Linked DNA regions of Homo sapiens: all the other regions are linked to region 1. The links come from fine-mapping of genetic effects on gene expression. A gene starts in region 1. Each other region holds a variant in brackets. All regions are shown on one strand. Distances are between the middles of the regions.

Region 1 (8,178 bases):
TGAGATGCCTTATGTGGTACGGCTGCACAACTTCCACCAGCTCTCTGCACCCCAGCCCTGTTTCACCTTCAGCCATCCCAACAGAGGTAGGTTCTTTTATGGCTGTCCTCTGACTAGAGGGGTACGGGCTTCTTCCTTCCTCCTGCTTTCTTCCCTTACTGTCCCTAGTCTGCCTTATCTACTCTTCCTTTCCTGGGTCTTGCTCATGCTTTATCAAGTTGTCTAGAGCTTCTGGCCCCTTGTCACCCACATAATTATTTCCTGACAGATCCTATGATTGACAACAACCGCTATTGCACCTTGGAATTTCCTGTGGAGGTGAACACAGTACTACATGGCTTTGCCGGCTACTTTGAGACTGTGCTTTATCAGGACATCACTCTGAGTGAGTGTCTATGGCAGTAGATGGCAGAGTATGAGGGTGTGCTTCCTGGGCAGCTTATATGTACATGTGTCATTTAGATTTATGGGGGGCCCAGTGCTCAATGAATGGAGATCTTTGTGTGATTAGAGAAGAGACCCTCTTCAGCATAGGCAAAAGTCACAGCCATGGAGACCTCTGTTTTTTCATTATTTTGTCCACACAGGTATCCGTCCAGAGACTCACTCTCCTGGGATGTTCTCATGGTTTCCCATCCTCTTCCCTATTAAGGTAGGAACTGCTTTTAAGACTCTCTAGTTAAGCAGTAACCTTTGCCTTTGGTGTTGTGCTTCTTTCCTTCTCCCAGGAAGATAGTTGACTATGACTCATGTTCTCCTGATTTCATATGCTCTTGGATCCCAGTGGTAGGTGTTGGGAGTATTTGGAGTGGCCTTCTGCCTGGCTTTCCCGCATCTACTCTGGCTACTCTTCTGTCTGTTCTCTACTTTGAGCAAGAGTCATCTTTTAAAAACTCAAATTTGATCTTATCTCTCTTGCTGTCTTTTTTTTTTTTTTTTTTTTAAAGAGACGGAGTCTCACTCTGTCGCCCAGGCTGGAGTGCAGTGGCACAATTTCGGCTCACTGCAAGCTCCGCCTCCCGGGTTCATGCCATTCTCCTGCCTCAGCCTCCCTGAGGCTGAGATTACAGGTGCCAGCCACCACACCCGGCTAATTCTTGTATTTTTAGTAGAGACGGGGTTTTACCGTGTTAGCCAGGATGGTCTCGATCTCCTGACCTCATGATCCGCCCACCTCAGCCTCCCAAAGTGCTGGGATTACAGGCGTGAGCCACCGCGCCTGGCCTGATCTTATCTCTCTTTTTTGCTTAAAACTCTTCAATGCCTTCCCATTGTCTTTAGGATAAAAGTCAAAATCTGGGACATTGCTTGTAAGACTTGATGTGATCGAGTGTTTGCTTGCCTTTGCAGCTACTGTCCCCTTGCTTACACTGCTTCAGCCTTATGGACCTTCTTTTTGTTCTAATTGTCTATCTTCTTTCCTACCTCAGGCTTTCATGCCTTTCTCTTGCCTGTAGAGTTCTTTGCTTGTCTCTTCACACAGTTAACCTATCTTCTAGGTCTTCTTTAAACATTTTTATTGTGAGATAAACTTTCTCTGATCTCCTAGACTAGGTTAGTGTTCCCTTTCATAGGTGTTTTTCTGACTCTGTACATGTTCACAGCTCTCACCACACCTTTGATTATTTGTGTTCTGATAGGCTTCAAATAACTTTCATGAGGGTTGGGACAGTCTTGTCATGTTTATCATTTTATCTCCACACCTACCTTAATACATTGCCATGTATAATTCATAGCTTCACCCTGAACCTTCCTGTCTTTCTTCTTACAGCAGCCCATAACGGTACGTGAAGGCCAAACCATCTGTGTGCGTTTCTGGCGATGCAGCAATTCCAAGAAGGTGTGGTATGAGTGGGCTGTGACAGCACCAGTCTGTTCTGCTATTCATAACCCCACAGGCCGCTCATATACCATTGGCCTCTAGCCCTGCGTGCCAAGTGTCCAGAGCCTTGGAAGCAGCTTCAGGTTCTGCTCCTGTAGTACAGAAGGTGCAGTACATCTATGGGCTGTGATTCCCCTTGCCCATCAGAGAGGAGCATTTCAATCTGCTTTCCTGCCTTACATCAAGGTGGGCAAGGGATTATAATTAATTGCAGGGCTCAAGCCACCAATCTATGAAGACCTCAGGCCAGGGGGTGAGGAATTAGTGCTGGATTTGAAGCTACGCACTCAGCCTCAAGAACTCCCTGGAATATCCCTGAGAACATGGGGTTTGAACGGATTTTCAGCCTTTTTCTGTTCTTGTTTTGATGGTTTTGTGTAAGAGGAAATACAAATAAAGTTATAGCCCTTTACTGCACGACCATGCTGCCCCCTGCCACTATTTTCCCACACCTCACTTAGACCCAGGCATGTTCAGATCTGTCCTCTTAGCCTATCCAAGACCCAAAGGGGCCTAGTTGTATTCCCTACTTAGGAAGCTGAGCAATGACTATTGTAGTCCTGGATATAGGCCTTTCTGACCAGCTACAGTGAGCTCTTGTCCATTAGAACCTACAGTTAGGCTTTTCTCTGGGGAGGAGGCATAGAGTTTGCCACCTTGGAAAAAGATGGAATAGTGAGTGAAGCCAGTTTCTCTTCTGTATTCTTGAGCTACTGCACGGGCAACTGGTTACCTCTCCTTTGTTACCTCTTGGGAAGACTGGAATCCATCCAGGAATCTCCAGCAAGAAGCTACCTGTTTTTTTTGAATAAAACCACAGGGTTACAGTTTGAAGTCCTAAGAGATCATCTAGTCCAATTTTCCATTTTACAGAGGGGGAGTTTGAAATGGGTACAATGATGTGATATTAGTATCCAAGTCAGAATTGGAAGTCAGGTCCTCCGACTCTGGCTCTCCCCATGTTATAACCAGCTACATTTTTGGTAGCTACAGTAGACCACAGAAGTGTCTAGGGGCTCCTGGAGGCCCCTGGAAAGTGAGGGTGGACATCAGTTCCTTCTTTCCGGTTAGAGGACTCAGTACTGCTACATCCAAGGAGTCACCTGAGAAACTTTCAAATTTACCCTTGCAGTGGGAAATGTGGGGGTACTGATTTGAACGGAAGTTATGACCTGTGGGAGCAGGCCATGACGATAGGGCAGAGTGTGGGCCAAGACAAGTCTGTGGCAAGATCTGCTTTTCCCTGGTCCCAAGCACCGAGGTCAGGAGAGGTGGTCGGGAAGGTTGTTTAGGTAGCCGGCTCAGAACGGGGATTTCGAGTTCAGCATCCCCGGACGTTAAACAAACGCCGCTGTTCTCTACAAAGCTTAACCTTAACGACCGACGTGACTCCTTCAGCAAATCCGAGTAGGGACGGCCAAGGATGTAAATTGTGCCTCCTCGTTGGCTCCGCCCATCGCACTGGTCTAGTCTACGCGAGCACCAGGAGTGGGGTTGGTGGCTTCTTCACTCCCGTTTTCAGTCCCGTTTTCCCCGCCCTCCGCAAGTCATTTAACCAATGAGAGAGTGATGGGCGGCTACCAAAGGACGCTTCCATTTTCTGGAGTCTCTGAGGTTAGCCAATCAATGGGAACTCGGTGGTTGCTAAGACGCATTTGAGTTTGCTCCACCCATACTTAGGACTTTAGCCAATGAGAACCTGTACTTTGGACGGTTGCCGCGAAACCAGTGAGGTTATTTCCAAAGCCGGGGAGTCTTGGCGCATGCGCAGATTGGGGAAGGTTCTGGAAGACGGCAGAGCTGCCGCCATTTTGCGGGAAGAGGAGGCTCTGTACCTGCAGTGCTGCTTTTCTTGCCTAGACTCTAGGAACTATCCGAGCTCCACTCCCCACAACATACTCAAAGGAACGGAGAGAACCGGGACCCCCCTGCGGGGACCCGGAACTGGTGAGAAACCCCAAAACCCGGTCCCCACCAGACGTCACCAATGCGTGACGTTGCTGCACGGCGCCTCCCCCCTGACGTCACGGGCAGAAAATGGCGTCACGAAGAGATTCAGGCGAACTTTTAACATTAAAAAAACCTTTGTTTGTTTTGACCTGGAAGTGTTAGCTACTTAAATGTAGCCCACTGCCACGATTTTAGAGTTGGGCACCCTCGTGGCTGTATCTTGCACCGATAAAGATGCGGTTTCTAGAATCCTGTGATTTTTCTTTCCGGGTCTCTGCAGCCGTGACACTTAGGGTCGCCCACACTGGAGAGGGAGCATCGACCCTCCGCGGCCTGAGAGGACACGCATCATCAGTTTCAGCCACTCGCACCACCATTCAGAGAGAGAGAAGGGAATTGAGCTTTCTTCCTCAATCTCTAGTCTGTCGAAGATTCATGTTCACTATGTTGACCTTTATGGGCTTTTCCCATTTAACTTTTTCAAGCACTCATTCCAGTAGGCGTATTATGATGCCACATATGAAGATTGAGCCCTGGGACACTGGCTCCCGCAGAGATTGTGCCAGTTGGTTGCCTATAGGACCTCTTTTTTTTTATTTTTTTAAGGCGGAGTGTCGCTTTGTCACCCAGGCTGGAGTGGAGTGGCGCGATCTCGGCTCACTGCATCCTGTCTCCCGGGTTCTAGCGATTCCCCTGCCTCAGCCTCCCGAGTAGCTGGGATTACAGGCGCCTGCCACAACGCCCGGCTAATTTTTGTATTTTTAATAGAGATGGGGTTTTGCCATGTTAGCCAGGCTGACCTCGAACTCCTGACCTCAGGTGATCCACCCGCCTCGGCCTCCCAAAGTGCTGGGATTACAGGCGTGAGCCACCGCGCCCGGCCTATAGGACCATTTTTTAAAGCTACACAACATGGGGAGGGTGGTCCTTCAAGTAGCTTTTATCGTTCTCATTGTTCCTCTTTTGTTAAGCTGCCTTCAGTTTGTAGGTGTTTGTGCCCAGCTAAGTGATCAGACCCTGGGGATGGCGCTACCATCACCCCTGGGGCTCCAGCTTTTCGTGAATTCTTCCCGAATTGGTCTGACAGTGGTTCTCTCTGCTCCTTTAGCAGTGGGGTCTATCTGTTGGCTTGTGCTATGACGAGGTCTAGGAACTGACGTGATTGTGGGTCTCTAATACTGTTTTTGGAGCAGGATGGAAGAAAACATACTCTATGTGGATGAGATTGAGTGGACCTTGACCCATAAGTTGGGACATGAAGAGAGCGTTTGAAAACTACCAACCTGGGCCGGGTGCAGTGGCTCACGCCTGTAATCCCAGCACTTTGGGTGGCCGAGGCGGGCGGATCACGAGGTCAGGAGATCGCGACCATCCTGGCTAACACGGCGAAACCCCGTCTCTACTAAAAATACAAAAAAAAAACAAAAAAGAAGAAAAAAGAAAAAACTACCAGCCTGAAAATGCATAGTGTTTGCTACCTTATTGCTTTTAGCACATCTAGAAAGACACTAAACCCAGTGAGATTGCAAGTTTCAAAATATTGTGTTGTATATGGCTTTGCTTAAACGGATATATTTGTTTCTGAGTGAAAACTTTTTACGTAGAGGTTTATTTGTAGAGGCTTGTAAACTTAAGTGTAAGTTTTAGTGTGTGTGTTAAGTTGTTCTTACCCCGCATTAGCACTCAACAATGAGCAGTTCTTGAAATCAAGCATTTCATTTGGAGGGGAAAAAGCAGATTGTAAAAAATAGTTCATAACAGAAAATTTGTGTAGACTTGGCAGCAAAAATGACTGAAACAGCTTGAGTATAAAAAACTTTTCTTTTTAGGCCGGGCTCGGTGGCTCATGTCTGTAATCCCAGCCCTTTGGGAGGACCAGGCAGGCGGATCACCTGAGGTCAGGAGTTCGAGACCAGCCTGACCAATGTGGAGAAACCCCGTCTCTGCTAAAAATACAACATTAGCCAGGTGTGGTGGTGCCTGCCTGTAATCCCAGCTACTTGGGAGACTGAGACAGGAGAATTGCTTGAACCTGGGAGGTGGAGGTCGCAGTGAGCCGAGATTGCGCCATTGCACTCCATCCTGGGCAACAAGAGTGAAACTCTCTCAAAAAAAAACAAAAACAAACTTTTCTTTTTAGAACTATTTTCCCATAGTGTATATTAGTCTAATACCTTTAAGCATACACTGTACATGCCTCAGATATAGGAGACTCACAATGAGGTTTAGCTAATGGGACTGATTATTTTGATAAACATATGAGAAGAACATTCATGTTCAGTGAGTATATATTTAAAAGTAGGTATCTTGGTATACTGTGTCCTTTTTTTTTTCCTTTAAAGTTAATTACAAACCATATGAGAAGTAATCTGATATAATAGATATAATGTTAGATTTGAAGTCAGAAAACCTTTCTGATCAAGAATTAGCTCCTCTGGCCAGATGTAATCCTAGTACTTTGGGAGGCTAAGGTGGGTGGATCTGTTGAGTCCGGGAGTTTGAGACCAGCCTGGGCAACATAGTGAGACCATGTCTCTACCAGAAAAAAAAAAAAAGCCCAAAATATGAAAAGTTAGCCTGGCATCATAGTGCACACCTGTGGTCCCAGCTACTGGGGAAGCTGAGGTTAGAGGATTGCTTGAGCTAGAGAGGCAGAGGTTGCAGTGAGCCGAGATTGCAACATTACACTCCAGCTTGGGCAACAGAGTGAAATCCTGTCTCAAAAAAAAAAAAAAACATTCTTCCCTTTGAGCTGTGTGACCTTCTCTGTTTTGGGGATTGAGACAGAATCTCAATCTGCTGCACAGACTGGATTGCAGCGGCATGATCACAGTTCACTGCAGCCTCAACTTCCTGGGTTCAAGCGATCCTTCCATTTCAGGCTCCTGAGTAGTTGGGACTACAGGCACGCACCACCATGCGTGGCTAATTTTTATATTTTTTGTAAAAATGGGGCCTCACTGTATTGCCCAGGCTGATTTTGACTTGGCCTCAAGCCATTCTCCAGCCTTAGCTTCCCAAAGTGCTGAGATTGCAGGCGTGAGCCACCCCCTCTGCCTGGCCCTTGAGCTATGTATGACTTTGAGCAGTTCAAAAAACGTTAGTTTTAAAAAATTTGGGTATGAATCATATATTACCTGTCTGCAGCATTTGTTACCTTTGATTGCTAAATAAATATAAAGTGTTACTGGAAGAAGTAGAAGGCCGGGCACAGTGGCTCATGCCTGTAATCCCAGCACTGGGAGGCCGAGGCAGGCGGATTACCTGAGGTCAGGAGTTTGAGACCAGCCTGGCCAACATGGTGAAACTTTGTCTCTACTAAAAATACAAAAATTAGTGGGACGTAGTGGCGGGCACCTGTAATCCCAGCTACTCAGGAGGCTGAGGCAGGAGAATCGCTTGAACCTGGGAGGCAGAGGTTGGCGTGAACTGAGATTGTGCCACCGCACTCCAGCCTGGACAACAGAGCTAGACTCCTTCTCAAAAAAAAAAAAAAAAAGCCAGGCATGGGGCTTATGCCTGTAATCCCAGCACTTTGGGAGGGCGAGGCGGTCGGATCACCTGAGGTCGAGAGTTCGAGACCAGCCTGACTAACACGGAAAACCTGGTCTCTACTAAAAATACAAAATTAGCTGGATGTGGTGGCGCATGCCTGTAATCCCAGCTACTCAGGAGGCTGAGGCAGGAGAGTTGCTTGAACCTGGGAGGCAGAGGCAATTGAGTTTACTGGTTTTTATGTATACCAATTTGATTTGGGTTTAATTTCCATTTAAGCCTTAAATTTGGCTCCAAGTAATTTTTCTCTAAGAATCTTCTCTCTCCATAACATGCTTAGCACAGTGTCTAGCAGTTGTAGGTACTGTAAGTCATAGAATCATAGTTGTAATTATTACACTTATTTAATTGTCAAAATAGGATATGGACTCTTAGGGCAACCAAGGCAGCATTGTTGCATAGTGCATTAGCTGCTTTAAAGAGGACAAAGTTCCTCTTTTTTTTTTTTTTTTTTGAGATGGAGTCTTACTCCATCTTACACCCAGGCTGGAGTGCAGTGGTGTGATCTCGGCTCACTGCAACCTCTGCCTCCCAGGTTCAAGCGATTCTCCTGTCTTAGCCTCTTGAGTAGCTGGGACTACAGGCGCCCACCACCATGCCCGGCTAATTTTTGTGTCTTTAATGGGGATGAGGTTTCACCATATCCGTCAGGCTGGTATTGAACTCCTGACCTCAGGTGATCCACCCACCTTGGCCTCCCAAAGTACTGGGATTACAGGGTGAGCCACCACGGCTGGCCAACAAAGTTCTTACAGTTATGAAAAAGTCTGATTATGATAGCCTCCTTGCAT
Region 2 (8,178 bases), 100 kb before region 1:
CCCTCCTCCAAGCACTTTTCAGTCAAATAAGCCAGGACAGTGGAAGGGAAGTGACTGTAATTACAGGAAACAGTGGTGTGAAGACATTGTCTAGTGAATACATTAATGTCCCCACTCATGAAGCTAATAACGGAGAAGGAGAGAGAGGCAGGGAGGAGGGAGACACTTCTCGATTTGGTTTACAAAGAGATGAAAAGTTGATGAGGTGGAAAGATGCACAGGGCTGTACCAGGCAGGGCTCCAGCGGAAAAGGCTGTCACCCTGTGGTGGGGGAAGGGAGGCTGAGGCTACATGCAGAGCGGAAGGGTGAAGAGGGTAAATCTTGACTCTTAAACCAACTGGGAAGGGAAGGCTTGGACCCTGGGAAGGGGAGGACAAAGAAGTGGCTGTGAAAGCAGTAGTAACCACAAGCTTGGTGACCCTTGTCCTTTTGGTCCTCCAGTGCATATGTGTGGAGGGGAGAGGGTAGTGATGGTGATTTTATAGCCTCCTGGTCAGGAAGCAGCACTAAATTGTCACTGGAATGTGTGGGTGGGGAAGAGGCCCTGCTGAGAGCAGAGAGATGGCTGATTTATCACACCCAGCACTGTTGGGGCTGGGGGGAGTTCCCAAGCTATGGTGGCAGCAGATGGCAAGGCCTTCTGTTAAAGAGAAGACAGGGGATAGAGGAGGTTGATGGGAGAAACCTTTAAAAAATGGGAGCGGAGGACACAAACAATACCACCTTGTATTTAGTCAGAAGGCAGAAAGTGGTTGGTGAAGGTGACAACCCAGTGTCATGTTTTGAGACTGAGAGGTTTGGAGAAGTCATTCACAGAAGAAGAGGGGGTAAACCCTCCTCTCCTGTACTGCAGCTACCTTCCCTTCCCCCTCAGCCTTGTGCAGTCTTCGTATTGATTGATGAGGGCTGTCGGCCAGGAACTGATCGAGGCTTGTTAATTGCATTTGTCAAATGCAGGGAAATTGGGAATTAGTGAAATCGGAGAAGGGGGTTTGGAAAACAAATGACTCGTGCCTAAGGAAATTTTTTGCAGGAAAGTATCTCAGGAGCCCCTGCAGTCAGGGAGCTGCTGGTGTGGACTCAGACTACATGGTTGAAATAGGCAGGAGCTGGGCGGGGCACAGTGGCTCAGGCTTGTAATCCCAGCACCAGCACTTTGGGAGACGGAGGCAGGCAGATCACTTGATGCCAGGAGTTTGAGACCAGTCTGGCCAACATGGTGAAACCTGTCTCTACTAAAAATACGAAAAATTAGCTGGGTGTGGTGGCAGGCACCTGTAATCCCAGCTACTTGGGAGGCTGAGGCAGAGGTTGCAGTGAGCCGAGATGGTGCCATTGCACTCCAGCCTGGGCAACAAAAGCAAAACTCCATCTAAAAAAAAAAAGAAAGAAAGAAATAGGCAGGACCCAAGCTACATCTTCCTTCTCGTAGACTGTTGGGAAATGGTTAGCTGCGTGAGAAGCACAGGTAGGTCATCTTCCTCCCACTTAGGACATTGGTTTGCAGATCTTAAAAAAAAAAAAGAAAAAAAAAAAAGCACTCTTAGGAGAAATCCCAATGCCTGAAAAAAAAATCAGAGGTTGAAATTGAGCTGAGAGGTCCAGAGCCTCCACTATTGAGCTTCCCCATCCAGCCACTCCCCGCAGCACCCTTTGTTAGCCCCATACACATACACAGTCCCTGGCACTTCTTGGAACCTCAAGGAACACAATTTGAACACCTCTTCCCTGGGAAATAGCCTTAAGGATAGAAAGAGAATTGAAGATTGGAATTTCCTTACATGACCCCAGAGAGCATAAGACCCCAGCTTTGGTCCATGAACAGAAAATTCATTCTGGAGAGAAGAGATGATCGTGAAACAATGCAACCCTTTGCCCTGTTTCTGTCTCACACTTTGCTTTGGCAGTGGTTTAGCTGTTTAACGGAAACACCTATTCTGCACTGGCAGAGTCCTTATGTTAGAAGAGAAAATGCATGTTCTGTTCTGGCATATCCCTGTTGATCTACCTTCCTGGGTCTTGGGTAAAAGACTCATTTAATGGAAGAGCTCGATTTGTGGTAGGTTTTTCTGGGAAGAAAGTAGAGCAGAGGTAGGGAAAAACTGCAAGTCTGTAGGCTAGTGGTATCCACCCTGTGCATTTGTGATTTCTTGCTGATGGTTACTGGGGGGAAATTGGCTTTGCAGCGATGTGTGTCTCCGCTTGTGTGGGAATGATGGATGCCGCATAGGATTGGAGAGATGTTTTTGAGTGGAGTGTACCAGTTCAGGGACTCCCATCAGATTCATTTCCCAGTACAGTCCTCTTGACAAAGGATGATGGAAAAGAAATCGCCTTAAATAGCTGGAAGATTAATTTCTCTCAGCAGTTCCCAGGCGTCCAAGGGACTGGGCTCTTTAAGTGATGTCTGACAACTTCTCTTCCCTCAACAGATAACTCAGTAACACCAAAATCTGGCTCCTCGGGGTAGGTGATGGGACTAATCTGATTAAATAGGGAGCAAATACTCCTGGAGGCCCCTTGCTTTCTCTTGCTAGCCTTCCAGCATCTGCACACCAGGCAAGGGAGGGCTGTGGGGAGTAGCAGTGCACTGTGGGGTGAGTAGAATGTTCATGAAGGAAGGTGAAAAGGTAGGTGAGGATGTGGGGGAGGAGGGAGGAAGGGCACAGTTAACGCAAATCAAAGACTGAAGGATAATAGTTACTGAGTGTTCCTCTTTAGGCAAAACCAGAAGGTCAGTGTCTCTTGATATCCTCCTCAGCTAGCAAATGAGAAAACTGTCAGAGCCATTTGGGGAGTGGAAGGTCACATCCTCCGAGGGGAAATAAAATAACTGATTTATTCTGGCCCACGGATTCTATGTGGTCTGTTAGGGGAAGGAAGAAAGAGGTGGGATGAAAAGAGAATAAAGTAGAAAAAAAAAGGTGGATGGAAATTTTGAGGGGAGCATTTCCCTTGTGTCAGGAGTAACAAGGATAGGATGATTGGGTTAGGAGAGAATCTACATGACCATATCTAATTTTCGGTGGATACATTTAGGTTTTTAATTTTCTTTTATTTTTGTTTCTTTTGTTAGATCTTCCCCTGACCTGCTCCCAGGGCTATAACAGATACGGACTTTGAAACTGTATGGAGTATAGAGCAGTGCTCTATAATTTAAAATATACATATATTGCAACCAAGCACCTCTGCTGTTTTGCGTTTGTTTCTTGTTTGTTTTTATAAATTCTAGTTTCCCTTCAGGAAGCCAGAATCATACTGGGAATGCTTTAATTATAGTGGGCAAGAGGGAGCTCAAACAGCAATCAGAACTGCCCTGATCAGCAGCTGCTGCCACCTTCTACCTGACCTGGGCCACCCCTCTTTTTCCCCCCAAGTCAGCCTCCCGTGCTCCCCAGGCGTGGCTTCAGAGCCAAGTTCTGGTTTCCAGGAGCTCTGCCCCCACTGAAGCATTTCAATAAAAAACATTTCTAAAATGTCCCCTTTGCAGTTGTTAGTGGGTCAAGCAGAAGAAATTCTAC[C/A]CACGTCAGCTTCTTGGGCTTATTTGACCCAACTCATTTCTCCCAGAAGCTTTTGCCTCTGAGTTAGGTGCCAAGCTTAAGCTGGTATTTAACTCTTTATGGTCCAGATTAAGCTGTCATCAGCCATAAAGATATGACCCAGTTTATTTGAAAAGAAATAAGACACCATGGGTTCGACACGTTCTGATGCTTCCCATTACTTATCCCCGGCCCCATCTTAGGCTGTTCCTCCCTTTGCCTCGTTCCATGTTTTCTCTCTGCTCTCTCACTTTATAAAAATTCTCTTTCCTTTGCAGAGTTTAAATAAAAACCAATCAATCAATAAACCAAGGGCTGCTTATAGGCTTTACTGTAACAAGAAAAGGTTATCATTAACTGCAGGGTACCCAAAAAGCTGGTATTATAGAGGAAAACAGATGGAATGGCAGAAAGTGAACTAGAGAGAACAAGAGACAAACCAGAGACAAACAAAAGCGACTCCCAGACAGCAAGCGCGAGATTGAGCAAAGTGCAGAGGGAGATGTGAACGTGGCAGAGAAAGATGGATGGAGATATTGACAGGCAGAGCTGGACTGTGAATGGGGGCAGACAGGGAGTGGGAAAGGAGACTAAGAAGGACAGTGATAGAGAGAGTGGGCAGAAAAACAGGGAGGAAGGAAGCGGCTCGAAGCTAATGCACAGTGAAACATGTCCCCCTGGAGACAGATAATTTCTCCAGCCATACGTAATGAACACGTGCCTCTCTGTGTGTTGCCCCTGTACTGTCACAGTCACTTAAATTCTGCAAGAATCTCTCCATGTCTACACCACTTATGCGAGGTTGGAAAGAAGGTTTGGGCTCTCACAACCCCCATCTCAATCCAGCCAGGCCGAAGACAGAAAATTAGAAACCTGTGTCGTAAAAGTAACAGGGTGAGTGAGGCAGGATCACAGATCCAGTACCTTCGAAAATTTGTTTTTAGGTTCACTAAGAAGCCTTCTCTCCCCACACCTCCATACTCCCTGGCAACACACATCATACACACATAACTCATCCTCTTTTCTGCAAACATGCCTGCAGATCAGGGCCTAGGGTGCCTAAGTCAGGAGAGGGAAGCCACTACCTCCCAGGAAGACTGAGGAATAGCACATGTCAGGTAAGACGAGAAATAAGTAGGTCCAAATAGAAGTAGGTGTAGCCTACAAGGCACCAAGGTAGAGGGGATGTTTTTGCACGACCGCAGCTCTTTTCTCATTCTAGCCTCAACACCATCACTATCCCAGAGACACCTATGCACTCTAAGCCTCCCCATGCATACAGAGTTTCACACAATACACAGGCTTTTTTTCACAGCAGCTTATCTCCAGCGGTGATGTGTGGTATTGTCTGATTAGAGGGAATCCTCTGAGCACCATGGTTATGTGGGAGGGCTCATAATCACCATGTCTCCCTTGAGTCTTGAGTTTGCGCTCATAGCTTAGTCTTTAGAAAAGAAAGCAATGGAGCATTTTAAACCAACACAACATATTCAGCATAGTCCTGCATTTCCAAGCACCTCCTAAAGAGGAAAAATGCATAAAGGTGGATCAATCCAAGTGCGGTCCTTGGCTAGGGGTCAGCACTGTTCTACATCTCATTTAAACAGCCTTAGGGCCAGGTGCCATGGTTCACACCTATAATCCCAACACTTTGGGAGGCCAAGGTGGGAGGATCACTTGAGCTCAGGAGTTCAAGACCATCTGGGCAAAATAATGAGACCCCCATCTCTACAAAAGATATTAAAATTTAGCCAGGTGTGGTGGTACATACCTCTAGTACCAGCTCCTCAGGAGGCTGAAGCAAAAGGATCACTTGAACCTGGGACATGAGGCTGCAGGGAGCTGTGATCGCACCACTGCACTCCAGCCTGGGTGACAGAGTTAGACCCTGTCTCAAACAAAACAAAACAAATCAAAAAACAGCCTTAGGCATGTGCCACATCAAACAGCATCTATGTAGTGTCTCTGGTTGTTTCCTGGCATGTCTGCCTGCTTTTTCAGTTAAGCACTATAGTGTAGTTTTTACTTGTTCCCCCACAGTGTCTAGCATGCTGTTGGCTACTCAGGAAAGATATATAATAAATGTACTTTTAATAAATGAATTAATGAGGCTAGGTGCATTAGCTGACGCCTGTAATCCTAACACTTTGGGAGGCCGAGGTGGGTGGATCACTTGAGGTCAGGAGTTCGAGGCCAGCCTGGCCAACGTGGTGAAACTCTGTCTCTACTAAAATACAAAAATTAGCTGGGTGTGGTGGTGTGCACCCGTAATCCCAGCTACTTGGGAGGCTGAGGCAAGAGAATCACTTGAACTGCAGCGCAGGCTGCACTGAGCAGAGATTCCACTAGCCACTATACTCCAGCCTGGGCAACAGAGCAAGACTCCACTACAAAAAAAAAAAAAATACAGAATTAATGAATGATTGCCAGGCGCGGTGGCTCACGCCTGTAATCCCAGCACTTTGGGAGGCCGAGGCAGGCGGATCACCTGAGGTCAGGAGATCGAGACCAGCCTGGCTAACACAGTGAAACCCCATCTCTACTAAAAATACAAAAAAAAATTAGCCGGGCATGGTGGCAGGCGCCTGTAGTCCCAGCTACTCGGGAGGCTGAGGCAGGAGAATGGCGAGAACCCGGGAGGCGGAGGTTGCAGTAAGCAGAGATAGCGCCACTGCAGTCTGGCCTGGACGACAGCGAGACTCCGTCTCAAAAAAAAAAAAAAAAAAAAAAGACCAGCCTGGCCAACACGGTGAAACCTCGTCTCTACTAAAAATACAAAAATTAGCCAGGCGTGGTGGCAGGCACCTGTAGTCCCAGCTACTCGGGAGCCTGAGGCAGGAGAATCGCTTGAACCTGGGATGTGGAGGTTGCAGTGAGCCGAGATTGCGCCATTGCACTCCAGCCTGGGGAACAAGAGCGAGACTTCATCTCAAAAAAAAAAAAAAAAAAAAAAATTAATGAATGATTTCACTATGGTGTCATTTTGCCAGTGGTTCCTACCCTTCTTAGCACTGTGACTCCCATATTGTTTAATTTTAAGATGCCCTTTGCTGCTCTTAAACATACTATGGGCCAGGCACGGTGGCTCATGGCTATAATCCTAGTGCTTTGGGAGGCCAAGGCAGGTGGATCACCTAAATTCAGGAGTTAAAACCAGCCTGGCCAATATGGTGATGAAACTCTGTCTCTATTAAAAATACAAAAATCAGCCAGGTGTGGTGGCATGCGCCTGTAATCCCAGCTACTCAGAGGCTGAGGCAGGAGAATCACTTAAACCTAGGGGGCAGAGGTTGCAGTGAACCAAGATTGTACCACTTCGTTCCAGCCTGGGTGAAAGAGTGAAACTCTGTCTCAAAAAAACAAAAAAACAAAAACAAAAACAAAAAAACTATGAAACGTATATTAATTTTTAAAATTAAGACAAATTAAAATTACTTGTTTTGTGAATTTCTTTTTTTTTTTTTTGAGACAGAGTCTCGCTCTGTCGCCCAGGCAACATTGGCGCAATCTCGGCTCACTGCAATCTCTGCCTCCCAGGTTCACGCCATTCTCCTGCCTCAGCCTTCCCAGTAGCTGGGGCTACAGGCGCCCGCCACCATGCCCGCTAATTTTTGTTTTTTTTGTATTTTTTAGTAGAGACGGGGTTTCACCGTGTTAGCCAGGATGGTCTTTTTTGTTTTTTTGGGACTTTTTTTTTTTCTTTTTGACACCACTGCACTCTAGCCTGGGCGACAGAGCGACACTCCATCTCAAAAAAAAAGAAATAACATAAATGTAAAGAAGATAATGAAGAAGGCAAAGAGGAGAAAAATGAGTAGATAGATGCCAGCTATTATATGTAGAAGAAATAACAGAATTTGAAAAATCACCATTTGGCAAACCCCAATGCAAAAATAGGAAGGTGCAAGGTTGTGGAAGAACAGGATATTCACATTATCTAAGATAATCACTGTATTAGTTTGCTAAGGCTGCTATAACAAAACACCATAGTCTGAGTGGCTTAAACAACAGAAATTACTTTCTCCCAGTTCTGGAGGCTGTAGGTCCAAGATCAAAGTATCAGCAGTGTTGATTTCTTCTGAAGCCTCAGTCCCCTTGGCTTGCAGAGAGCTGCCTTCTCACTGTATCCTCACATGGTCTTTCCTCTGTGCACCACAGGTATCTCTTTGTGTCCAAATTCCCTCTTCTTATAAGGACACCAGTCAGACTGGCTCTACCCTAAGTGCCTCATTTAACTTAATCACTTCTTTAAAGACTCAGTCTCCAAATACAGTCGAATCCTGAGGTACTGGAGGTTAGGGCTTCAGTATATAAGTTTTAGGGGAACACATTTCAGCCCATAACAATCACTCTATTTATTATTAGTTTACTAATTAATTACAAATGGCAAATATACTTCTACAACAGAGACGTCTAGCAGACATGAATAAACTTGCAGTCACCAATAATAGAACAAACTGACATTATATGCCTCTTGATGTGATACAATAAGAAGTATATAAAATTACCTAAGTAATATTCTCGCTAAAAATGTTTAACCTTGGCCCTGATGTGGTGGCTCATGCCTATAATTCCAGCATTTGGGGAGGCCAAGGCAGGAGGATCCCTTGAGCCCAGGAGTTTGAGACCAGCCGGGGC
Region 3 (8,178 bases), 23 kb after region 1:
ACTAATTTGTAAAGAAAAGAGGTGTAGGCTGGGTGCACTGGCTCACGCCTGTAATCCCAGCACTTTGGGAGGCCGAGGTGGGTGGATCACGAGGTCAGTTCAAGACCAGCCTGGCCAACATGGTGAAACTCTGTCTCTACTAGAAATACAAAAAGTAGCTGGGCATGGTGGTGGGTGCCTGTAATCCCAGCTACTCAGGAGGCTGAGACAGGAGAATCGCTTGAGCCTGGGAGGCGGAGGTTGCAGTGAGCCGAGGATGCACCACTGCACTCCAGCCTGGGCAACAGAGCGAGCCTCCATCTCAAAAAAACAGAAAAGTGTATTTCTCACAGTTCTGGAGGCTGGGAATTTCAAGAGCATGGTGCCTGCATCAGGTGGGGGTCATCCCATGTCAGAAGGGCACAAGGTAGAAATGAGTACATGAGACAAAGGGACCATGGGCCAAACTTGCTTTATAACAGCCCTCTCTCATGATAACCTGCTGTGTGATAGTGACATTAATCCACTCATGAGGGCTCTGTCCTTGTGACTCAGTCACCTCGTATTAAGCCCCATCTTCAACACTGTTGCATTGGGAGTCAAATTTCCAATGTGAACTTTTGGGGGACACATTCAAACCACAGCATTTCTGATTCTTCCAGGCCTAGATCTCACATGATGTTGCTGTTCTCCTGGTTACCACCCCCATCCCTTCCCCCATCTTATCCTAGTTTGCTTTCTGGACCGGGGGAAAAGGGAAGGAGGATGCACTATTTTTAGGTAGAAGCTGCTGGCTATGACCCAGCACCCCTACAGTTATTGATTTGGCTTCTAATGTATCTTGAGAAGTGCAGTGGGTACCGTTTTTGTTAGTCATCCTGAGGCCATGAACTGGGTCTTCTCATGGCTGGCTTGGCTCCTTCAGACTATTATAAATATCCACAGGCCTTGCCTCCCTGCCTTCCTCTGCTTGGTTTCCTTATGTTTCCATCCCTAGCTACCTTGGCCTTCCTACACTCGGATCCTTCCACCTCAGTTCTTTCTTGTTCTTAGTTCCTCACATAGCCTCTTGCTGGGAGAGAGACAATGTTGGAAGTAAGGACGTATCTAAGACAATTTCCAGTCTTACTCCATATAAGGTGATGGTATCTAGTGAGTGACAGTTGCTGTCCGTGTGTGACTCAGTGCCTTCTTGTTACTCATCCCTCCATACGAGGTGGTTAGAGTGGAGAGAAGCGGGCTGTGAACAGACTCTGGGCCCAGCTTAAGGTAAAAGAAACTTCCCTCAACATCTACCTGCACATGGTGGCTGGTGGCGTAGGGGTGACATTGTGATCTAGATCCTTTGCCAGCATAGTTAGAATTTCCCTACCAGTCTTCAGTTCTAGAAAAGATTCTCACCTGATTTTTGACTTCCAGTCTATGCTTCTGTATTCACTAAGGTGGCAGCATTTCCTCCCTGTTCTTTAAACTGCTGTGCTCTTGACACAGGAATTCTGCCTGCTTCCTCAGACTCCCAACAACCCCCAGATAGGAGTTACCAGTAGAAGCAGAGGCTTGACCTGTGAACTTTTAGTCCTGGAGCATATCATGAAGGGAATTGAGTAAAAACCTGAAGGATGGAATTATATCACAGTCCCTCTTTTCCGTGTAATGGAAAGGCTTTAGTGAAAATCAGGCAGCAACACTTGGACAGTGAAAAGAGACTCTGAAAGGTGAGGTGACAGGAGGTGGCATAATGGTCATTGTTAACATTTATGCAAGGTTGGTTGTAGGTTAGGTGTTCTAATCGTGTATTAAGTCACAAAATCCTCACAACAATCCTCTCAAGTAGTTTATTATCTTTACTTTGTAAACAAGGAAACATATCCAAATAAGTTAAATAATTTTCCCCATAAGCACAAAGTTAGCAAGTTAGGGATTCCAATCCAAGTACTCTCGCTTCAGATCCCTTGATCTTAACCTTACCTGCCTCTCAGCACCACCATGGAAGACAAGGCCTTGGAGTCAGTGAGGAAGTGTCACTTTTCCTATCCCTGTACCCATAGCTCTCCGTAGACTCAGAATTTTTCCACTGCCATGTCTTTGCTTATCTTGAGTGACAGTGTTTGTGGGTGAACCTTGAAGGTGCTCTTTCTGCTACAAGGGCCCTGGGAGATAGCATGGGCATGTGCATTGAGAAGCCAGCCTCAGACCTTATCTTGAAGCAGCTTGAGGCCAGACCTACTGTAGGCTCAGCATCTTGCTAGGAGGCATGGGAGTGATCTAACCTGCCAGCTATCTCTCTTCCTTTCCTCCTTCTGCTGATCAAAGTCCTGTCCTTTAAGACCCTGAAGCTTTCCTAGGTGGAGTTGATCTCTCTTTTCAGTATTCTTTGTCCTCTTGTGGGTCATCTTACTCTACTTTTATTTAGTAAATAAAATAATTGCAATAAAAATTATTTTATTGAAAACTCCATTACTTGATGGTTACAGCCTGATGAGGCCAGACTTGGATGTCTTTCTCATGATTGCTTTGCCTTGCACATATTAAATGTCTGTAGAATTGAATGAATGCTGTTCATTAAAGTGTTAAAGTCAGCACCAGGCTTTCCAAAGGCTGCCCCTTCTAGGCTGCTTTTCCCAGCAGCCTCATCCATTCCTTCCTCACTCCACCAGGAGAGAAGATGCAGCTTTACTCTTTCTGATGTTACCATGGTAGCCTGTGATACTTTCTTTCTAAAGTGCTGCTTGCCATCCACCAGAGACTGATGTTTCCATGGCAACCAGGTGAAGGCAATAGTCACGAGCTGGATGCAGGAAAGGAATTCCGGTCTGAGAAGCTGCATATCTGAATCTTCTAGCTTCAGACATCCTTTCCCCTCTCTCATAACTTTTGCGCTTTATATCCAGGACTGGTTTGCTCTCTGGTGTGCCCTTGGTTGAGAGAGCTCTGTGAAAGTGAGGTGAAGCAGACCAACCAACTTAGATCACGTGGGAAGGTGGGTGCAAGGAAAGAGCTGAGCAAAGATCACTTCAAAAAGTTGGATGAAGTCTATTAGTTGTTCAGATGATCTGCTCTCAAGAGCCCTTAAGGAGTTGGCTGGAGTTTCTGGAGAGCCATTAAGCAGTTATTTTTGAGAGCAATGGGTAGATGGATGAGGTGCCTGAAGACTGGAAAGCAGCCAGTCAGTGCCGGATTGTAGAAAGGAGAAACAATGACCTTGGAAATCGGAGACCCGTCAAACTTGCCAATGTTCCAGAAAGGATGGGAGTTTCAGTCAGCTTTCAGGCATCAGGAAGCCTACTTGCTTAGAATTAGTGGTGCTAAGAATTCGCCTCCTCAACTCCTGAGCATAAGCAAGCTAGGGGACCTCCACCCTGTAGCCGAGTGTCACACTCTGGAACCACACAGCATGGTTCAGATCCCTCTTCCCTCACAAACTAGCTGAATAAGCTTGGGTAGGTTACTTCACTTCTCTCACACTTCATCTGTAAAAAGGAAATGATAACACCTATCTCATAGGGATGTTGTGAGAATTCATTGAGAAAGGTTTGGAACTTGGCTCATTACTGTCCTCAGTATTTTCACTCCTCTGGATGCCTACTCACTTGATTTTCTAGCTGACTTCATTCTCCCCAACTTTAGAGCTCAAGGTTTATGGGGAAAAGCAAGGGCAGTGCAATGGTGAAAATAAATCTTCATTTTTAAATAAATAAATTGTTCCTGCACTGAAGCCCCAAGCTTACAAGGTCTTGGGTCACACACAACCTGCCTAGTTTTCAGGAAAACAGATCCCACTAGCCCAATCTCTTTATGCTTGAGGCTCTGTCCACATAGTTAGATTTTAACCAGATGGTTTCGAAAAATCAAAATGAGCCCCCCTCACAGGTACCTTCAAGGTACCTAACACCATTAGCTTTGTCTGGCAGGGGAAAAATACCAGGGCACTCAGTTTTGTTTTGTTTTGAGACAGGGTCTGGCTCTGTTGCCCATGCTGGAGTACAGTGGTGCCATCACAGCTCACTGCAGTCTCAACCTCCTGAGCTCAAATGATCCTCTTGATTAGCTGGAACTACAGGTATGTGCCACTATGCCCAGCTAAGTTTTGTATTTTTTGTAGAGATGGGGTCTTGCTATGTTGCCCAGGTGGTCTTGAACTCCTGGGCTTAAGTGATCCTCCCTCCTTAGCCTCCCAAAGTGCTAGGATTATAGGTGTGAGCCACCACAACTGCCTGAGAGCACCCTCTGTTACCACCCTTTCCTTAGCGTCTCAGCCTCCCCCAAGCACCTGTCTTTGTTGGTCTCCAGAGCCTAGCCCTACACTGGCATTTTCCTTTCTGAATAAGTATTTTTTTTATTTATTTATTTTTATTTTTTCTTTGAGATGGAGTTTCGCTTTTGTTGCCCAGGCTGGAGTGCAATGGTGCGATCTCGGCTCACCGCAACCTCTGCTTCCTGGGTTCAAGTGATTCTCCTGCCTCAGCCTCCTGAGTAGCTGGGATTACAGGCGTGCGCCACCACTCCCAGCTAATTTTGTATTTTTAGTGGAGACAGGGTTTCTCCATGTTGGTCAGGCTGGTCTCGAACTCCTGACCTCAGGTGATCCACCCGCCTTGGCCTCCCAAAGTGCTGGGATTACAGTCCTGAGCCACTGCACTGGGCCTTATTTATTTATTTTTAATTAATTAATTAATTTTTTTTGAGATGGAGTCTTGCTTTGTCGCCCAGGCTGGAGTGCAGTGGCGCAATCTCGGGTCACTGCAAGCTCTGCCTCCCAGGTTCATGCCATTCTCCTGCCTCAGCCTCCCAAGTAGCTGGGACTACAGGCACCTGCCACTATGCC[C/T]GGCTAATTTTTTGTATTTTTTAGTAGAGATGGGGTTTCACTGTTTTAGCCAGGATGGTTTCGATCTCCTGACCTAGTGATCCGCTCGCCTCGGCCTCCCAGAGTGCTGGGATTACAGGCGTGAGCCACTGCGCCCGGCTGGGCCTTATTTATGTATTTTTCTGAGACAGAGTCTCATGCTATCACCCAGGCTGGAGTGCAGTGGCATGATCTCTGCTCACTGCGATCTCTGCTCACTTCAACCTCTGCTTCCCGGGTTCAAGTGATTCTCCCACCTCAGCCTCCCGAGTAGCTGGAATTACAGGCACCCACCACCATGCCTGGCTAATTTTTGTAATTTTTTTTAGTAGAAATAGGGTTTCACCATGTTGGCCAGGCTGGTCTCTCTCTTGACCTCAAGTGATCCACCCACCTCGGCCTCCCAAAGTGCTGGGATTACAGGCGTGAGCCAATTGCCCGACCTGAGTAAGTATTTTAAATCAGCACAGGTCCTCTGCTTAAAGTCAAGTTGTAATTTGAACACAAAAATGGAAAATCATGCAGTAAAATACCATCGTGGAGCTTCAATTGCCAATCTGTCCCCCAACCTTCCATCAGATGACAAAACCCAAAAAAGTGTTACCCGTGAGTCCTATGGAAGGCACGTTGGACTTTGTAGACCATAACTTAAATTTTTATCTCCAAATGGTGCTGTGCTTTGAGAGTTTAGCAAGCTGCTTTGATGCCTAAATAAAGGGCCAGGACATAGGTTGCAAAAGGCATTACTACTTCCACCGCTTCTCTGTATAATGCTTGAGAAATTACAAAGATCTTTGCTCTTTTATTTAGTCCTCATGACTTCGCTATAAGGTAGGTATTCTTCATTTTAGAGTTGGGATAGCATAGCTGAGTTCAGCAAACCAGACAGGTTAAGAGTGACTTCATCCACAGACCCCCATCCAGGAAACATCCTGAGCACTAATTGAAAAGCATTCAAGGGCTTACTGAATTTGCATTCACATCTGGAGTTTTCAAGGCCACTAAGCTGTGGAAACTTGACATCAATATTCAAATAGATGAAAAGGGACCTTAAGCATATCCATCAGGGAGTCACCGAGATGATAAAGGCCTGAGAAGCAGTATGCTCTTGTCCGGCATTTGTGTCCTTTGACGACTGCACCATCCACCCAAATTTTGCTGCCTTCTTTATAGGAAGGGCCTTTTCCTCATGTGGTGGGCTGCCCACTGTTTCTTCTCTGTGCATTTGCTCATGTAGTTTGACCACAAGGAATGCTTTTCCTTCTTTCTCTCAACTATCTATAGCCTACATATCCTTTAAGGCCCAGTTTCTAAAATATGTCTTCCAAATTTACTGTTTCTTCCATTCAGAATTCCTGGAGCACATGAGGTAGCCCCCAGTTAGATAGAATGTGGTATTGTTTGCTGCTATTTTGCCTGTTTTGTGCTGTATCACCTCATCCATCTCCCCAGCTTAATTGCAAGCTATTTGACGGGCAGAAATTGTGTCTTATTTGTATTTGTTTTCCCCATTGGGCCCGGCACACTGATTGGCATATTGCAGATGTTTAGTACTTGAGAGAAACAAAATGTCTTCTAGCATTTGTGGATGAAAGATTAAAATGTCCAGGAAAATTTACTTAGATTGATGTGGATTGAAACTATATTAGATTAATAAAAAGATGTGTGTGTGTGAACTTCCTGGGAGTGAGGGTTTAACCCAGAGGACTTCCACGTATGACCCCGGCAGTCTTTCAGAAGAGAAGAGCCCCTGTTCCAGTCTCTCTAGAGGGCTCAGATGCAGCACGGCCTAAAAGCTCATCTGTAGGCAGAGGCCCAGAGTGGAAAAATTTCCAGATGCAGGACTCCCCCGTTCCTCTGACCCTCAGGGGAGAGCACACAAAGTCTATGCTCTGGGCCAATGAGGCGGTCTTGTGGGCAAAGGGGAGTGGGAGTAGCAGGGGCTGGGCAGGGGCTGGTAAGGGAACACGGACTCCAAGACAAAATTGCAGTGGTTAAGAGATGCATGAGGACAGAAAGGACCTTACCTGGCATGGCAGCTCAGGTCCCAGTGCCCTCTGCTGACCTCTCACCCCAGCCAAGATCAATGGCTCTACTTTGCCTTGAGAGAGAAAGAGAGAATGGCCTGGCTCTCAGAGAAGGCCTCACCTCTCCCAAGTCTGGCGGGAGCCTGGCTTCAGCTTCCGTCTGTTCTGAGCTATTCCCTGTAGGCGTCTGGAGGGAACACACAGATGGGTCGGGCTGATGGGACTGGCTGAGTTGGGGGAGGGAGGCTCATGGTGTGTGGCTCCCCTCGTGGGGGAGGTCTTGCCATCATGGTCTTCCATACACGAAAGACATGTTTTAAGCTTCTGCCACGTAAAAGGCACTGGGCCTTTCTTGTTCCTCATCCTCCTCTCTGGCCACATCTGACCATTGGTGATACTCTCCTAGAAACCCCTCCTCTGGCAGCAGTCACAACAGGCTCAATCCTAGTTCTCCCACTACCTCTTTGGCAGCTGCTTCTCCACCTTCTCCATCTATATATCCCCAGGATCTCCTTGTTCCCTCTTCTTTCTCTGGACCCCTAAGGCTTTGTTTTAAATTATTTTGTTTCTTTCTTTTTTTTTTTTTGAGACGGAGTCTCTCTCTGTCGCCAGGCTGGAGTGCAGTGGCATGATCTCAGCTCACTGCAACCTCTGCCACCCAGGTTCAAGCGATTCAGCCTCCCGAATAGCTGGGATTACAGGTGCCCACCCCTGCGCCTGATTAATTTTTGTAGTTTTTAGTAGAGATGGGGTTTCGCTATCTTGGCCAGGCTGGTCTTGAACTCCTGACCTCATGATCCACCGGCCTTGGCCTCCCAAAGTGCTGGGATTACAGGCGTGAACCACTGTGCCCGGCCTATTTCGTTTCATTTTTGAAGTGGTACTAAATGACACAGTTAAAAGTTCCAAAGGTAGGCCAGGCGCGGTGGCTCACGCCTGTAATCCCAGCACTTTGGGAGGCTGAGGTGGGTGGATCATGAGGTCAGGAGTTCAAGACTAGCCTGGCCAAGATGGTGAAACCCCCGTCTCTACTAAAAATACAAAAATTAGCTGGGCGTGGTGGTGGGCACCTGTAATCCCAGCTACTCGGGAGACTGAGGCAGGAGAATCGCTTGAACCCAGGAGGTGGAGTTTGCAGTGAGCTGAGATTGTGCCACACTGCACTCCAGCCTGGGCAACAGAGCAAGACTCTGTCTCAAAAAAAAAAAAAAAAATTTCCAAAGGTAGAAAAAGGGCATACAGGCTGGACGCGGTGGCTCAGGCCTGTAATCTCAGCACTTTGGGAGGCTGAGGCAGGCGGATCACCTGAGGTTGGGAGTTTGAGACCAG

The links. PIP is the estimated chance that this variant, and not a neighbour inherited with it, causes the effect. A credible set is the group of variants that fine-mapping cannot tell apart.
Region 2: its variant is the best candidate, but not a certain one, in a credible set for the expression of RBM23 in tibial nerve (GTEx, PIP 0.51).
Region 3: its variant is the best candidate, but not a certain one, in a credible set for the expression of RBM23 in neutrophils (CEDAR, PIP 0.56).

The regions. Positions count from the first base shown.
Region 1 is chr14:22,914,650-22,922,827 of GRCh38, reverse strand. It overlaps RBM23 (RNA binding motif protein 23), which reads left to right and starts at 3,679. Exons shown (of 14, transcript NM_001077351.2): 1 at 3,679-3,829. PRMT5 (protein arginine methyltransferase 5) reads left to right here. Exons shown (of 17, transcript NM_006109.5): 14 at 1-86; 15 at 269-385; 16 at 588-652; 17 at 1,772-2,299. The coding sequence ends at 1,924. PRMT5-AS1 (PRMT5 antisense RNA 1) reads right to left here and starts at 3,372. Exons shown (of 2, transcript NR_120600.1): 1 at 1,708-3,372. RefSeq lists a silencer at 3,305-3,604 and enhancers at 3,865-3,934, 4,025-4,134, 4,205-4,374, 4,863-5,627.
Region 2 is chr14:23,017,644-23,025,821 of GRCh38, reverse strand. No RefSeq gene overlaps it. Among named protein-coding and RNA genes, the nearest start is that of C14orf93, 12 kb to the right of the region's middle. RefSeq lists an enhancer at 616-705. The variant C/A (reference allele first, on the strand shown) is at 3,523.
Region 3 is chr14:22,891,524-22,899,701 of GRCh38, reverse strand. RBM23 (RNA binding motif protein 23) reads left to right here. Exons shown (of 14, transcript NM_001077351.2): 14 at 1-6,498. Among named protein-coding and RNA genes, the nearest start is that of REM2, 12 kb to the right of the region's middle. The variant C/T (reference allele first, on the strand shown) is at 4,805.